Linked DNA regions of Homo sapiens: region 2 is reported to be linked to region 1. The links are microRNA targets in miRTarBase. Many come from high-throughput screens and were not tested one by one. Region 1 holds a microRNA gene; the other region holds the end of a gene's coding sequence.

Evidence for each region. The annotated mature microRNA hsa-miR-4670-5p reads AAGCGACCAUGAUGUAACUUCA and lies in region 1 at 4,266-4,287, opposite strand. An mRNA with a match to its seed (bases 2 to 7 or 8) in the 3' UTR can be bound and repressed. Matches are read on the target gene's strand: a 7mer-m8 pairs with bases 2 to 8, a 7mer-A1 pairs with bases 2 to 7 and ends in A, and an 8mer does both.
Region 2: the mRNA of TASL is a reported target of hsa-miR-4670-5p. Seed matches in the 3' UTR shown: 7mer-m8 at 2,902-2,908.

Annotation. Positions count from the first base shown.
Region 1 is chr9:92,523,765-92,530,764 of GRCh38, forward strand. It overlaps MIR4670 (microRNA 4670), which reads right to left and starts at 4,294; the gene lies at 4,220-4,294. All of the region lies in intron 5 of CENPP (centromere protein P), which reads left to right. The region is part of intron 1 of ECM2 (extracellular matrix protein 2); the gene reads right to left.
Region 2 is chrX:30,551,102-30,561,775 of GRCh38, reverse strand. It overlaps TASL (TLR adaptor interacting with endolysosomal SLC15A4), which reads left to right. Exons shown (of 3, transcript NM_025159.3): 3 at 1,420-2,967. The coding sequence starts at 1,421. The coding sequence ends at 2,326. Among named protein-coding and RNA genes, the nearest start is that of TASL, 21 kb to the left of the region's middle.

The DNA of each region.
Region 1 (7,000 bases):
GTGTTTCAGAGGAGTGTCTTTCTCCTTGAGCACAGTGTTTATAGATAAGAGAGCAGGTTGCACTCAGAGCATGGGAACATAACGGCGATAAGAAGGCTTTCCTCCTCAGAGACCTCTTGTGGCTTTCCACAACTTATTGTCCCATATTTTTATGGCCAGTTTATGCAGGCACTCCATAAGCCTTTTCCCCAACAACAATTTGTAAACAAATGAGCATGGATGTGTTCCAGGGAAACTCATTACCAGTAAAGGTGGTGGATCAGACATGGCCCCCTCTCTGGGCCCTACTGTTCTGCAGGTTTTCAAAGATTACTTGGGAGATTTCTCTCCACCTGTTTGCTAAGACGTTCTGTGACTGATGTAATCCACAACCCATTTTCCCAGCCGTTTTCTGTTTTGTGCTTTTATTCTCTAGCTTTATAATTGTCTGGGGGGAAGGGCGTGATGGTGCCATATAAAAATAACAGTCAATAGCATCAGTTATAAGGAGGTAAGAGTCAGGAAGAGTAACTCTTTAATTAGCTGGTCTCAGGGTTAGTATAGGGCCTTGCACATGGTAAAGCTGAAAAACATTTAAGAAATGAATATTTAGGCACTCTTGGTACAGTAGTAGCATTATGGTCAGACAGACTGGCGCAATCCCTGTGAAGTCTGGTGGCCAGGGACAAGAGAAACCTCCATCAAGGTGTTGCAGCAGCTGTCATCAAAGGATTCACTCAGCCAATCTCTCTTGGCCTAAAGTTAGTCCTACAAAGGAAGGTTGGCAGTTTTGACTGCCTCTCAGAATTCTACAGCTGAGAAACACACACATACTCACATACACACACCTATACCCCTTGCAGCTTTCCTCCTGCTCTTGCCTCAGGTCCACTCACTGTCAGTGTTTCCTGAGATGAAAAGCCTTCCTTACACAGCCAGTATGGAGGAGAAACTAAAACCCCAGGGATCATAAGAACCCAGATCACAACAGATTTGCCGCTGTTATCTTTTTAATGGGAATTTAAGGTATTTGGTGATTCTAGAAGGTTAAAGTAACTAACTTGCTCAGTGATGAAATTTATTTCAATTCTCACAGGCATACCTTGGTCTCCTTTGCCAACCAGAACAAATCTATGATAGGAAGGAATGGTAAAACATTCAAGGTGATGTTACATACAGAGATGAATACCCTAAACTGCAAAGGAGAGGCATTGAAGGATTAAGGGATAAGTGGCCATAGACTGCTAACCCAGTCATCTTGTTGGAACCTCAGAAAATACCTGAGAGGCCAGGCACTGTGGCTCATGCCTGTAATCCCAGCCCTATAGGAGGCCGAAACCAAGGTGGGAGGATTGCTTGAGGCCAGGAGTTTAAGACCAGAGTAAGGAACATAGCAAGACCTTGTCTCAACTAAAACATAAAAAATTAGCTGGGCATGGTGGTGCATACCTGTAGTCCTAGCTACTCAGGAGGCTGAGGCAGGAGGCTCACTTGAGCCCAGAAGTTCAAGGTTGCAGTGAGCAATGATTGCAGCACTGTACTCCAGCCTGGGTAACAGAGCGAGACTCTGTCTCAAAAAAAAAAAAAGAAAAGAAAAAACCTGAAAGACCCTGCAAGCATTTGACTCAATCTTTCTGTCTGACCATTTGACCAAAGAAAGTACAGTCATGTACCACATAATGACTTTTTTGTCAGTGACAAATTGCATATACCATGATGGTCCCATAAAATTATAATGGAGCTGAAAATCTCTTATTGCCTAGAGACGTCACAGCATCATAGCATAACGCATTACTCATAATGTTTGTGGTGATGCTGGTATAAACAAACCTACTGCACTTCCAGTCATATAAAAATACAGCACAGGCTGGGCGCGGTGGCTCAAGCCTATAATCCCAGCACTTTGGGAGGCCAAGGTGGGTGGATCACCTGAGGTCAGGAGTTCGAGACCAGCCTGCCCAACATGGTGAAACCCCATCTCTACTAAAAATATAAAATTAGCTGTGTGTGGTGGTGCACGCCTGTAATCCCAGCAACTCGGGAGGCTGAGACAGAAGAATCGCTTAAACCCGGGAGGCGGAGGTTGCACTGAGTAGCTAGGACTACAGGTATGCACCACCATGCCCAGAGTGCAGAGAGACTCTATCTCCAAAAAAAAAAAAAAAAAAAAAAGCACATACAATTATGTACAGTACAGTACATAATACTTTCATATACAACTATATTACTGGTTTATGTATTTACTATACTATACTTTTTATCATTGTTTTAGAGTACATGCCTTCTATCTATTTAAACAAACATTAACTGCGCAACAGCCTGAGGTGGTTCCTTCAGGAGGTATTTCAGAAGAAGGCATTCTTATCATGAGTGTTATTACCCATGAAGACCTTCCAGTGGGACAAGATATGGAGGGGGAAGACAGTGATATTGATGATCCAGACCCAATGAAGGCCTAGGCTAATGCGTGTTTGTCTCAGTTTTTAACAAAAATGTTTGAAAAGTTAAAAAATAAAAATAGAAAAAAGCTTACAAAATTACGCTATAAAGAAAGAAAATATTTTTGTACAACTGTACAATGTATTTGTGTTTTAAGCCAAGTGTTATTAAGAAGGAATTTTTTTAAATTCTTGAAACAAATGAAGATGAAAACACAGCACACCAAAACCTATGGGATACAGCAAAAGCAGTACTAAGAGGGAAGTTTACAGCAATAAACACCTACATCAACAAGTAGAAAAACTTCATATAAACAACCTAATAATACATCGTAAAGAACTAGAAAAGCAACAGCAAACCAAACCCAAAATTAGTGGAAAAAAAGAAATAATAAAGATCAGAATAGAAACCAAAAAAACTATAGAAAAGAGGAATGAAATGAAAAGTTTTCTGAAACGATTAAAAAAATCAAGAAGCCTTTAGACAAAGAAAAAAAAGAGGAATGCTATTACAAAAGAGTCAAAATTTTTTAAAAAATAAAAAGTATATAAAGTTAAATTACAGTAAGCTAAGGTTAATTCATTATTGAAGAAATAAAAAAACTTTTTTATAAATTTAGTAGACTCTTAGTGTACAGTGTTTATAAAATTTACAGTAGTGTATAGTAATGTCCTAGGCCTTCACACTCACTCACTGACTCACCGGAGTGACTTCCAGTCTTCCAAGCTCCATTCATGGTAAGTACCCTAGATAGTGTACCATTTTTTAAATTATTTTAGACCATATTCTTACCATACCTTTCCTATGTGTAGATATGTTTATTATTTATTTATTTATTTATTTAGAGACAGGGTCTGGCTCTGCCACCCAGGCTGGAGTGCAGTGGCACCATCTCAGCTCACTGCAACCTCCGCTTCCTGGGCTCGAGCCAATCTCACACCTCAGCCTCCCGAGTAGCTGGGACTACAGACCCGTGCCACCATGCCCAGCTGATTTTTATATTTTTTTTGTAGAGACAGGATTTCACTATGTTGCCCAGGCAGGTCTCAAACTCCTGAGCTCAAGTGATTCACCCACCTCAGCCTCACAAAGTGCTAGGATTACAGGCATGAGCCCCCACACCTGGCTTTAGATATGTTTAGATACACAAATACCATTCTGTTCCAGTTGCCTACAGTTTTCAGTACAGTCATGGGCTGTACAGGTTTGTAGCCTAGGAGCAATAGGCTCTACCATATAGCCTAGGTGTATAGTAGGTTGTCCCATCTAGGTTCGTGTAAGTACACTTTATGATGTATGACAACAAAATCATGTAACATCACATTTCTCAGAATGTATCCTTGTCGCTAAGTGACATATGACTGTAATTTGTTGATATCCAGATTCTTAGAAGTCTGCTTCACAACCTAAGACAAGCTGTGGGAAATTCCAAGGGTATCTAAACTGAAAACCATGAGCATGAGCTCAGGGTAATGAATGCCTTCCTCAAGCCACAGTGTCTACCACCCAAATGTTTAGGAAATGCAGGGTGATCAGTGCTAAGTCTTGGCAAATATTGTGATTGTTTCTTAGTAGAAACCTACAATGGTAGTAGCAAACATATGGCTGCCATCCTGGGTCCTTGGCCTAAGTACAGATGTCACTAACTGACCTATTTTTTACATTCTGCATACAGTATATCACCTGAAGGCCAAGAAAATGAGCATGGTTTTGTGGAGATCACCTTCCCTGTATTGCCATAACAACATTCCTACTAGTTTGACAACTAGTAACCAGAGTGGCTCCATGAAGTAGAATGATACTCTAGGAAGCGACCATGATGTAACTTCAGACTTTTGGAGAGTCTGTGAAGTTACATCATGGTCGCTTCCTAGAGAATCATTCAGCCATTACACCAGTATTATGACAAAACTTATCAAATCTGACTCCCAGCCAACATGGAGTAATAGGGACTACGTATACCTTCCCACCTGAAACAACTTAAAAATAGAGCAACATATATCTGAAGCATTTTCCAAACATTAAACAAAGAGCAGTCCAGGCCAGTGATCCCTGAAAGGGGATGCAAATCAAATGCCCGGAGAGACCTGTGATTGACCTGCTTACTCCCTCAAGGGAGTTGCAGTGAGGGGAACACAGGCAGAGTCCAGCAGTCTCCATAAGTTGAAAAGATACAGCTGGAAATCTGAGGACACCAAAGAGACTAGTGTTCCTAGGGCAGAGTACAGAGAGGTGAGAGCTAGCCCAGAGGAACCCTTCCAGAGATGTGAAGTCTTCCACTGAGTACTGGATAGCACATGTATGTAAGTAAACTATTAATACTTGAGACTGGGAAAAGAACTAACCTAAAGGACAAAGGGGAAAACAAAGCAAAACAAAACAAAAAAAACAGGTCTCTGGAGCTTAAAAAAGACCAGGAAGAGTTTGTGTTCCACCAGTCAGAGTGGAAAACCTTACAATTCACAGGGCATCTGGTAGAGTACTCAGAAGAGCATTAGCTCAGTAGAGGAAAATAATTAGCCCTAGGCTAAAGGCTGCTGTGATCCCATTTAATAAAGCTTAAAAGCAAGCCTTTCTGAAAGAATTAAACTGCGTACAATAACTTGACAGTGTCTCAGATAACCCAACAAATGTTTTAGGATCCAATGTAAATTTACCAGGTACACAAAGAAACAGGAAAAGTTGACCCATAATGGGAAAAATCAGTTTATTGAAACCAGTTCAGAAATGACAGTGCTGATATACTAATAAAGTAGGTGTTTAAAAATCATTATACCTATATTCTATATGTTCAAGAAGTGAGAAGAAGGATTAACCATGTAATGTAGAAACATAGAAGATATTTTTAAAAACCCAAATCAAACTTTTAAAGATGAAAACTACAATGTGAGAGAGAAAAAATACATGACAAGGGATGAATAGCAGATTAGACATTACCAAAAATAATTGGTAAACTTGTTTTCAAAAACTGCAAAAAGAAATAGACAAATCCACAATTGTCATCCAAAATTTCAACACTTCAATCCTAAATATTAGTTTCAAAAATAGTAGACAGATTACAAATTAAAATGAGATGCCTCTACATACCTACCAAATGTCTAAAACCCAAAACACTGACAACACCCAGTGCTGGTGAGTGTGTGGAGCAACTGTAAGTCTCATTCGGTGCTGGTGGGAATGCAAAATGGTACAGCCACTTTGGAAGACACTTTGGCAGTTTCTTTTAAAACTTAACATACTGTTGCCATACAACCCAGCAATCGTGCCCCTTGGTATTTACCCAAATAAGATGAAAATCTATGTCCACACAAAAACCTGCACGCAGATATGTATAGGAGCTTTATTCATAATTGCCAAAACTTAGAAGCAACCAACATGTTCTTCAATAGGTGAATGGAAAAAAAACTATGGTATATTCAGACAATGGAATATTATTCAACACCAAAAAGAAATGAGCCATCAAGCCATGAAAATACATGGAAGAACCTTAAATGCATATAATATATAACTAAATGAAATAAGCCAACCTGAGATGGCATATGTATGATTTCAACTCTATGACATTCTAGAAAGGGCAAAACTATGCAAGCTATAAAAGAATAGTGAATTTGGGGCGGAGAGGGATGAATAGGTGGAACACAGAGGATTCTTAGGGCAGTGAAACTCTTCTGATACAGTATAGTCAGCCCTTTATATCACAGGTTCTGCATCTGTGGATTCAACCAACCATGAGCGAAAAATGTAGTTTGGCCTATGTAGCTTTTGTGCTGAACATATGCAGACTTTTTTTTCTTGTCATTGTCCCCTAAATGATACAGTATAACAACTACTTACATAGCCTATACAGTGTATTAGGTGTAAGTAATCTAGAGATTATTTAAAGTATACAGGAGGATATGTGTATTATATGCAAATACTACACCATTTTATATAAGGAACTTGAGCAGCCTCAGATTTTGGTGTCCTTGAGGGATCCTGGAACCAGTCCCCCAAGGGTACCAAGGGACGACAGTACTATAAAGGTGGGTACATGTCATTAAAAATTTGTCAAAACCCAAGAATACAGAGTAACAAGAGTGAACCCTAATGTAAACTATGGACATTGGGTGATAATGATATGTCAGCATAGATTTATCCATGGTGTGAGATTTTGATAGTAGGGGAAAAGCACATATGAGAACTCTGTACTTTCCACTCAGTTTGCTCTGAATCTAAAACTGCTTTGAAAAAAAGTCTGTTAAAAAATTAGTAGTCATTTTATGCCAATAAAAAGTAATTAATATTTTTTAATTAGTAGACAGAATATCAATAAGGATTTTAAAGACTTTAATACTATTAACCTATTTGTTCAAATTGTCCTAATAATTTGCCTTGTTTGTCCTAATGATTGTAGGTATGTACAAATTTAGTCGTTATATCTTTCTGGTGCATTTATCATTAGGTGGATACTTTCAGTGTCTCCGGGAGTGCTTTTGCTATAAGATCTACTTTGTCTAATATTAATGTAGTTGCATTTTTTTTCTTTTTTGACTTTTTAGATTCAGGAGGGTTGTATGCAGGTTTGTTAACTGAGTATATTATG
Region 2 (10,674 bases), not on the chromosome of region 1:
TGTGCCCAGAATATAGTAAACATTAAAAAAATTGAGATTTGCTAAATAAACCAGGAATAGTTCCAAAAGAGAAAAAAAAAATTACTATCTTACCCTTATACAATTTTTAAAAAAGGGAAACATTTTATTTACCTGGGAAACAATAATTACATGAATGTAAAAGAGATGTTAACAATTTTTAAAAGGACCTTTATGTATGGTTAAAAAAATCCTTCTTTTCTTATTTGACATTACAAGTTCAGGCTCAAGTTGACAGGTCTGTTTCAGAAGCCCAGCTCTCGAGGCCCAAGAGGACCAGTTTTCCTTGCTGTTGCCTTTTGCCCCAGTGCCGGGAATGCCAGTGTGTTCTGTTTTTAGAAAATGCAGCTGCTGGTTTCTAGCCTGTTCTAGCCACTCTAGACCAGTGACAATTGCTGGGGGTAGGGAGGGGAGGCAGATGTGGGGAAAGTCTATGGTCAGAAAAGCTCCTTGGTAACTAGGAGGTAAACACATCAGTTAGATACAGAGACATTTTCAGGATGTATTCTGAGAACTGGGAGGGAGAGAGAAGGAAATTTATTCTGGGATACAAAGGCAGGGTAGGCTTTGTGGTACTTCATGATGTGTTGAGCACAAATTAATTTCATACCATGTCATTGTTGAAAATTCTTTAACTCAAATTAACAAATACCTTTTGAGTCTCTGTAGAAATGCAAGTAACTGTGCTAGCTCCTAGGGATCCAATACAAAGTTAAGTAAGACACAGCACTTGTTTTCAGTAGAATTTGCCACAGATTTTCTCATTGTTTTGCTCATAATCCACTAGCCATGTTTCTCTCCAATCTGCAACTTCTAGATCACTGTTCATTTCCTACGGGGCAGAATGTAAATGCTTTTGCCTGACTGCCAAGGCTCTTCACGATCCAATTTCAGCCTATTTTCCCAATTCCTTCTGCTTGTGCTCAGCTTCTTTGTATGTGGTGAGTAGGTCATGCCACCATATTATCTTATAAGCCTGTTCCTATGGCTGGAACTCCTAATTACTCTTTAGCATTCAGCTGAAATATCACCTTCCCTATGACACATCCTGTGACTTCTCCCCCTTTGCCCCAGGCTAAGTTAGGGACCCCCCCACCCCTGTACTTCCTTTTTACCTATCACTATTATAATCCTCAGTGATACAATGTTGGAATTGTTTATATCTAGTTGATTTTTTCCTATAGTGGGAAACTTCCTGAAGGATGGAATTGTGTGCTTTTCATTTTTATATCCTTAGCACATGCCATAGTCCTGGTACACAGTAGGCACAGAATTAGTACGAGCTTGGTGAATGAATAAAGTGAATTTATTCATTGTCCTTATTTTTTGATATATCAAGTGCCAACTTCTAAAATTTCAGTATTCTTTTTCCCCATTCTTACTCATCAATTCTCTTTCCAGAATGCTGTCAGAAGGGTATCTCAGTGGACTTGAGTACTGGAATGACATCCACTGGAGTTGTGCCTCTTATAATGAGCAGGTGGCTGGGGAAAAGGAAGAGGAGACAAATTCTGTTGCTACCCTTTCCTATTCCTCTGTGGATGAAACACAAGTCAGAAGTCTCTACGTGAGCTGCAAATCATCTGGCAAGTTTATCTCTTCAGTGCATTCAAGAGAGAGCCAACATAGCAGAAGTCAGAGAGTCACAGTGCTGCAGACAAACCCCAATCCTGTGTTTGAAAGCCCAAACTTGGCTGCAGTTGAAATATGTAGAGATGCCAGCAGAGAGACCTACTTGGTTCCATCTTCTTGCAAAAGTATTTGCAAGAATTATAATGACTTACAGATTGCAGGGGGCCAGGTGATGGCCATTAATTCAGTGACAACAGATTTTCCCTCTGAGAGCAGTTTTGAATATGGCCCTTTGCTGAAGTCATCTGAGATTCCTTTACCCATGGAGGATTCCATTTCTACTCAGCCCAGTGACTTTCCCCAAAAACCTATCCAGCGGTACTCATCCTATTGGAGAATAACAAGCATCAAAGAGAAAAGCAGCTTGCAAATGCAGAATCCTATTTCTAATGCAGTTCTGAATGAGTACCTGGAGCAGAAGGTTGTGGAGTTATATAAACAGTACATTATGGACACCGTGTTTCATGACAGTTCTCCTACCCAGATTCTGGCGTCTGAACTCATCATGACAAGTGTAGACCAAATCAGTCTTCAAGTGTCTAGAGAGAAGAATCTGGAGACCTCAAAAGCCAGAGATATAGTCTTTAGCCGCCTATTGCAATTGATGTCAACTGAAATTACTGAAATTAGCACTCCTAGTCTCCATATTTCTCAGTATAGCAATGTAAATCCATAGAGAGGATGCTTCCATTACTGTCTCGCATTTACTTAAACATGAAGCAACACTTTATCCATTTATTCTGAGAATGTGCAGGAGGGGTTAGTGAAGGGGAATTAAGGGCTAGAGAAGTAAAGATCAGCTGGAAGTCATGTGTGAATCATGGAGAAATCTCATAATATTACACTTGATGAAGGAATATGGTAAGAGGAGCCATAAGGAATGATTTCAAAGAGAGGTGTGTACAGCAAGGAAGCAAAAATAAAAATGATCAAAAAAGAAACGGTTAATTCATTTGAAGAAACATAGGAATTAAAAAAGAAGACAGTCAAATGAGATGAAACAAAAAGGCCAAAAGGTGGCCGGGTGTAGTGGCTCACGCCTGTAATCCCAGCATTTCGGAGGCTGATGTGGGTGGATTACCTGACGTCAGGAATTCGAGACCGGCCTGGCCAATATGGTGAAACCCCATCTCTACTAAAAATACAAAAAATTAGCTGGACATGGTGGTGGGTACCTGTAATCCCAGCTACTAGGGAGGCTGAGGCAGGAGAATCTCTTGAACCTGAGAGGCAGAGGTTGCAGTGAGCCGAGGTCGCTCCATTGCACTCCAGCCTGGGCAACAAGAGTGAGACTCCCGTCTCAAAAAAAAAAAAAAAGTCAAAAGGTTTCAGGGTAAAGAGTTAAGAATATATTTGTTACCCAAATAAATTCATCCAACTTGTTTCTTTTTGAAGGAGATGGACTGTAGAAGGCTGCTATATTTGGGTAGAAAGATAGGGTCAAACAGTTTTCAAAATATGTTTATCTCTCCTTTGTCTATTCTGTATCAGATCATTTAAAGGTATATTGTTTGTAAATATTAAAACTGTAACAAATTATAATTGTGTTTTTATTTTTGAATGGTTTCTTAGTTACAGACACAGCCACAAAACAGCCACTCAAATCTCCTACATCTGTTTCCTGGTAGAGATGAAGTTGTCTAAATGAAAAACACCACATAGCACTAAACCATTTAGTGTTATTTTGCTGTGTTTGATTTTCTTGGTACTAAGCTTCAAAAGAAATTATGAGACCAGGTGCGGTGGCTCATGCCTGTAACCCCAGCACTTTGGGAGGCCGAGGTGGGTGGATCACCTGAGGTCAGGTGTTTGAGACCAGCCTGGCCAACGTGGCGAAACCCTGTCTCTACTAAAAATACAAAAATTAACCGGGCATGGTGGCAGGCGCCTGTAATCCCATCTGCTTGGGAGGCTGAGGCAGGAGAATTGCTTGAACCCAGGAGGTGGAGGTTGCAGTGAGCCAAGATTGCACCATTGCACTCCAGCCTGGGCGACAAGAGCGAAACTCCGTCTCAAAAAAAAAGAAAGAAAGAAATTATGAATCTTATTGTTTCCCTTTTTTTACCTCTTCCTTTTCTCCATGCCCTCTTGACCTGGAGCCAGGAAGGGGTCTTCCATGTCCTTGGAACAAGGTTACAAGCTGTAGGGTCCCATGATATCAAATTCTGTAAACTCATTCACTAGAATAGTAGCTTCACTGCTCTGCATCGCATCTTTCCTCTGGCTCAGGGATTGTCAAACTATGGCCCATTGACCAGATCTAGCCTGCTGCCTGCTTTTGAACTCCCACGAGCAAAGAATGATTTTTCCAATATTTAAATGGTTGAAAAAAAAAAAGCAAAATAAGAACAGTATTTTGTGATGGGTGAAAATTATATAAAATTCAAATTCAGTGTCCATAAAATAAAGTTTTATTGGAACACAGCAGTGCCCATTTGTTTATGTGTTGTCTCTGGCTGCTTTCACACTAGAATGGCAGAGTTGAGTAAAAGTGATAGAGAATATGGCTCACCAAAGCCTAAAACCCTTACTGCCTGGTCCTTGACAGAAGAAGCTTGCCAACCCTGCCTAACAGTAGTGCGTTGTCCATATAGTGGTTACTTGGCTTAATTCAGGTTCGCTGGGAAGGCAGACTCTGAGATGGAGATTGGTAAGTTCCTTGAGGAGTGGTCTTGGGAACAATGTCTGTGATGGAGTGAAGGAAGCAGAAGAGATTTCCACAGAGGCTTCCGCCCATCTCACAGGGAGCCCCTGGAGCTAGGGTGACCCTTCAAAATGGTTACAAATGGAAACAAGAGGGTCAGCTTTTATACTCCAGCATCTACCAGGAGCGGAGTGTAACCTTAGCCTAGGCAGTTCAGTGGAGGAGGGCAATCCCCAAAGTAGGAATCGACTGTGTCTTCAGCAGCCAAATTCCAAGCAGCTACTGGGGGAATGAGCTCCTCACCCCGAAAGAGCAATCTGGGTGGAGCAATCCTCTGCATTTAGCAGTATTTGTATTTGTAGAGTGAATGGATATATATATATATTTTGGATATATGTTTTTTCACAATATATGCTATTGTGTAAGGAAATCTGGTTTTGAAATAATTATTAGAAATGTTATTCACTGTTTCAAAACTATCACAATAATAAATGCAATATACTAATTGCTTGCTCTGTGTCTAGCACCATGTTAAGAATTTTACAAGAATTATCTTACATAATTCTTATAATAATCTTATGAGGTGGAATGTCTATTATTATCCCCATTTTACAGATGAGCCTGCTGGGCTCAGGGAAATTAAATAATTTGTCCAAGGGCACACAGTAAATAGTGGAATTGGCTTTGAGTTCAGTTTTATTTAACTTGAAAGCCCTGGTTCTTAACCACTATCACCTGCTTTTTCTGTTCACCACTCTATTTGTCTCACTAAAGATTTTTTTTCTGCTCTGAGTGGAGTCAACTCATTAATTTCTTATGTTATCTCATCTTTCCTTTTTAGTGTTTTGCTTGATATACTATTTATTTGTATGTCTTCCTGCCCAGAACATGAACTTTGATTTATCCACATGCTTTTCCACATCCTAAACATTACTTGCACACAGTAGGCAACCATTTCATATTTGTTAAATGGATAAATATGTTTTGGTCATGTTGGCTACTGCATTTGGTGATTGAAGTAAAAGACCATCAATATGAAAACCAGATAATTCTGACTAGAAAAAAAATGCTATTGAGGTTTTCTCAAGGCATAAACTAACTAAATAAATGAGCCTAATTTATTACAGCAGGTTAATAAATGGTACAATAGAATGCATGGTTATTTTCCGTTGATTCCCAAGATATAATTTGTTACAAAGTAGGCTGCATCAGTTTTTTTCAATGAATATTTATTTGATGTTGTGTTTTTGTTTTGCTTTGTTTTGACTTTTGAGTTGGAGCACTGTGTATTAAGCATATGGAGGGAAGACATACGTGTGTATACACACACAGGAGTAGGCCCTGCTCTCTGAAAACTTACCATATTGTCATGGAGACCTGGAAGATAACTAAGGAAGAAGTAACAAAGCCATTTATTAGGCAAGAACTTGGCAAAGTGATACAAACAGGAATAAGATGATCAATTATTGCAACTCAAGTGTAGTGAGTGCTGAAAAGGAGACATGGTAGGGAGTTCTAGACAGTTGGGGAGCCCAATGTAAGAAAAGCTTCCAAGGGGGGAAGTGATGGTTTAAATAACTCTTGAAGAACAAGATCAGATCTAAGCAAATGGGTAGGAGAAGCGTTCAGGTAGAAGTATGAGAGGGTTTGGTGCAACAGGAAACTGCAAGTCGATGGCTGTAACTGGAACTGAATGAGTGTATGAATAGGCAGGATATTCGGTTTTTAAATTGCTATTGTGACAAATTAATAGAGTTTAGTGGCTTGAAACAACAAAAGTTTATTATCTTACATTTCCAGAGATCAGAGGTTCAAAGTCATTCTCACTGGGCTAAAATGAAGTTATGGGCAGGGCTGCCTTCCTTCTGGAGTCTCTAGGAATAAGTGAGTTTCCTTGCTCTTTCCAGCTTCCAGAGGCTGGCAGCATTCCTTGGCTCTGGACTTTGATCTCTGCTTCCATCCTCACATCTCCTTCTCTGACTCTGATTCTTCTGCCTACCTTTTATAAGGACCCTTGTAATTACAACTGGGCTCACCCGAATAATTGAGGATAAGTTTCCCATCTCAAGATGCTTCATTTAGTCATACTTGCAAAGTCCCTTTTGCCATGTAAGTTAACAGTTTCACAGGCTCCGCGGATTAGGACGTAGACATTTGCAAAGGGGGAAGGTAGAATTATTCTTTCCAACACAGACAGTAGCAAAAGCATTTGTGACTCTTAATTGTCAGAACTTTGCCTCTCTAGCACTAATTCTCTTTATTTAAGATGGATAAATCCATGTTTGTTTATATATAAAATAGTTTGCTTCTCTTTTTGTCTCCTGTCATCTAACACTATATATATTTTTTCTGTATACTTTAATTCACTCTATCTCTTGCTCATTTTAGTTGCCCAGGCTGGAGGGCAATGGTGCGATCTCAGCTCACAGCAACCTCTGACTCCCGGGTTCAAGCGATTCTTTTGCCTCAGTCTCCCAAGTAGCCAGGATTACAGGTGTGTGCCACCACGGCTAACTAATGTTTTGAATTTTTAGTCGAGACAGGGTTTCCCTATGTTGGCCAGGCTGGTCTCTAACTCTTGGCCTCAGGCGATCCACCCGCCTCGGCCTCCCAAAGTGGTAGGATTATGGACGTGAGCCACCACGCCCGGCCAAGACTATTTTCTTAAGTAAGGTAAATTGGGTGGTTGTAGGAAGAAAACATGGCCTGTGGGTCCTAGAAAATCAGGAACCTGGAACTGACAGTCTGCTGTGACTCCCACCCCTCCCTCTGCGGAGGTGGCATGGATTCAGAGAGGACCAACCTGTGGAGAATGGGATCATAGGAAACCCTGAAAAATTACTGGGTTCCTTCTGTAATCTAGAAGCAGGAGACACTTGAGGACCAGAAGGTGCCATGCAGACAGAATAATGAGCTTCTTGGTAACCTGTAGTAACCTGTGTCCACTGATGACCAATAGTCTATGGCTTGAAGATCATCCACAATCTCCTGCCTTGCCCTTCACTGGCACTGTATGACATTCTAGGACTGTGAACCAACCCTGGGGAGGATTGAAGAAACCAAGAATAACTGAAATGAAATTTTCTGCCACCATGGAAGAATGGAGGTCCAGCTTCAGAAATTTAGCCATTCTGGAAAGAAAAAAAAAAGAAAGAAATGAAGAAAAGAGGAAAGGAAGGAAGAAGAAAGAAAGAAAGAAAGAAAGAAAGAAAGAAAGAAAGAAAGAAAGAAAGAAAGAAAGAAAAAAAGAAAGAAAGAAAGAAGAAAGAAAAAAGAGAGGTGTTATTAATTATACTTCTGAGTTTGTGGAGAAGTTGAAGTTAATTAGACTCCTATTCCTCCGCCCTGTCCTGGGACGAAATAACCTAAAGACAGAAACCTGTTACTTCTGAAGTAACATTATGAAGTAACTTCTGAAGTAGCATTATGAGAGGGACAAATGAGAAACTAGCTTTAGATCTAGTCTAGGAGGAAGAGGCAATGGAAATTAGGAAATTGTGTTTCTCCCCTCCTTCTCCCTTCCTCTTCTTTTTTCCTCTTTCTTTCTCTCTCTCTTTCTTTCTTTCCTCTTTCTTTCTCATTCCTTCCTTCCTTCCTTTTTGTTTCTCTCTCCCTTCATTCTTTTCATTCATTCTCTTTCTCTCTCTCCCTCTTTCCATCCTTTCCCTTCCCCCTCCCACTCTCCCATCCTTTACATTTCTTTCCTTTTCTTCTTCTCTCCCTTCTTTCCCCACCTTTCTTTACTTTTATCTTCCCTACTTTTTTCTCTCTCTGTTACTATTTATTTTGTTATTTTTTAATTTTTTTTGAGACAGAGTCTTGCTCTGTCGCCCAGGCTGGAGTGCAGTGGCGCGATCTCCGCTCACTGCAAGCTCCGCCTCCCGGGTTCACGCCATTCTCCTGCCTCAGCCTCCTGAGTAGCTGGGACTACAGGCGCCCGCCACCACGCCCGGCTAATTTTTTGTATTTTTAGTAGAGACGGGGTTTCAGCGTGTTAGCCAGGATGGGCTCGATCTCCTGACCTCGTGATCCACCCACCTCGGCCTCCCAAAGTGCTGGGATTGCAGGCGTGAGCCACCGCACCCGGCCTACTATTTATTTGATAAAATGCTAATTTCTGAAATTCCAAAAATGTTTCTCCATTTTATTTTATGTAATGCTAATGAATAAGAAGTTAATTCACGAATATTGCATAAAAGAAATCCAAATAGTGATGACTTCTCACTTCAGCACCCCTTTGCCTTCCAGATTCCCTGCCAGCAAGGCTCACAATATTCTACACTTGTACAAATATATAAATTTATATATTATATACACACACACACACACACACACACACACACACATATATATATATAATTTTTTTTTTGAGACAGAGTCACGTTCTGTTGCCCAGGCTAGAGTGCAGTGGCACGATCTCGGCTCACTGCAACCTGCGCCTCCCAGGTTCAAGCAATTCTCCTGCCTCAGCCTCCCGTGTAGCTGGGACTACAGGCACTGGCCACCACGCGTGGCTAATTTTTGTATTTTTAGTAGAGACGGGGTTTCACCATGTTGGTCAGGCTGGTCTCGAACTCACGACCTCAGGTGATCCGCCCGCCTCAGCCTCCCAAAGTGCTGGGATTACAGGTGTGAGCCACCAGGCCTGGCTGTAAGTTTATATTTTTAAACAAATGATACTGTACTATTCTGTCCTTTTGTCACTTAACTATACACATTTCCATAGGAAGGAGTGTTGTAAAGGGTTTGAATCATATATACTCTGTGAGGAGGACACCAAGATCCCATTCTACTACAGCTTTCTCTAGAATGGGAAATATAGAAATCTGAATAGACAAACCTCAGTACAGGAAAAACAATGAACACTATCTCCCTGTAGGCCATCTCTTTCCTAATGGAAAGAATATTCACATAAAATAAATAAGCCTTTTTCTTTTTTTAGGCACCTAGTGTTAGAGAGTGTAAAATTTAGCTAAAACACACAGGCATTACACTGAAATGGACTGACAGATTGACACTGGTCCATTAACAAACTCCTCAGTTATGGTCCACAAATTCTAGACTGTATTTTTATCTAGCTCTTATTTCTATGTCTTGTCCACAATGATATTATGTTGACTAATGTGTTATCGTGTGACAACTTGACTGGACCATGGGGTGCCCAGATATCTGGTCAAACAAATTTGGTTCTGGATATGTCTGTGGCAGTGACTTTAAATGAGACTAACATTTGGAAAGGTAGACTGAGTAAAGCACATTGCCCTCCCTAATGTGGGTGAGTCTCATCCAAGTAGTTGAAAGCCTTAATAGAACAAAAAGGATAACCCTCCCCTGAGTAAGATAATTTCTTCTACCTGACTGCCTTCAAACAGGGACATTGGCTTTTTCTTGCCTTCGAACTCAACCTGAGACATTGGCTATTCCTTGGTCTTGAGGCTACCAGCTTTCAGATTAGAACCACATCACTGGTTCTCCTGGGTTTCAGGCCTTCAGACTGGAACTACACCCTGCAGATTTTGGGACTTGTCACTTTCCATAATTGTGTGAGCCAATTTCTTATAATAAATTTATCTATCTATGTATCCATCCTATTTGTTCTGTTTCTCTAGAGAACTCTAACTAATAAAGATTTTATGACAAATTTTCCAGATGCCTTCTTGAAAATAGGATACATTAAGCCTATGGCCCCTTCTTGAGCTATCAGCTTGGTGACACTATCAAAGAGTACAATGAGCTTGATTTGGCATAACTGGTTTGTGATGTGCCATCCGGTAATTAGTCTTTATTTGAAGGCACTCACCCAACATCCTTTAAACCAGGGGTGTCCAATCTTTTGGCTTCCCTGGGCCACATCAGAAGAAGAAGAATTGTCTTGGGCCACACATAAAACACACTAACACTAACAATAGCTGATGACTTTAAAAATTGCAAAAAAATCTCATAATGTTTTAAGAAAGTTTATGAATTTGTGTTGGGCCACATTCAAAGTCATTCCAGGCCACATGTGGCCCACGGGCTGTGGGTTGGACAAGCTTGCTTTAAACAATCTGTTTAGCATTTTCCCTTGATTAATACTAAATTCAGGATACATATTTTTGAGATCTTAACTTAAACAAATTTGGACATTTCATTTCTCTAAACTTCTAACATTTCCCTCATTCTGCTTTATATATGGAGAAGGATTGAAGTGGTTTAGTCATCACGTTTGTTAAGCTGATTATACCTTGGGTGGTGATGTGCCTGAATTTGGAGACTTTAATTCATTGAAATGAACTTTGCATACACAAGCATACATATTTACATATATTTTAGTACATTTCTTGTTGCAAATATTTTAAAATTATATTTCTACTCTTTCCTCTAATTGGAAAATCACTTTT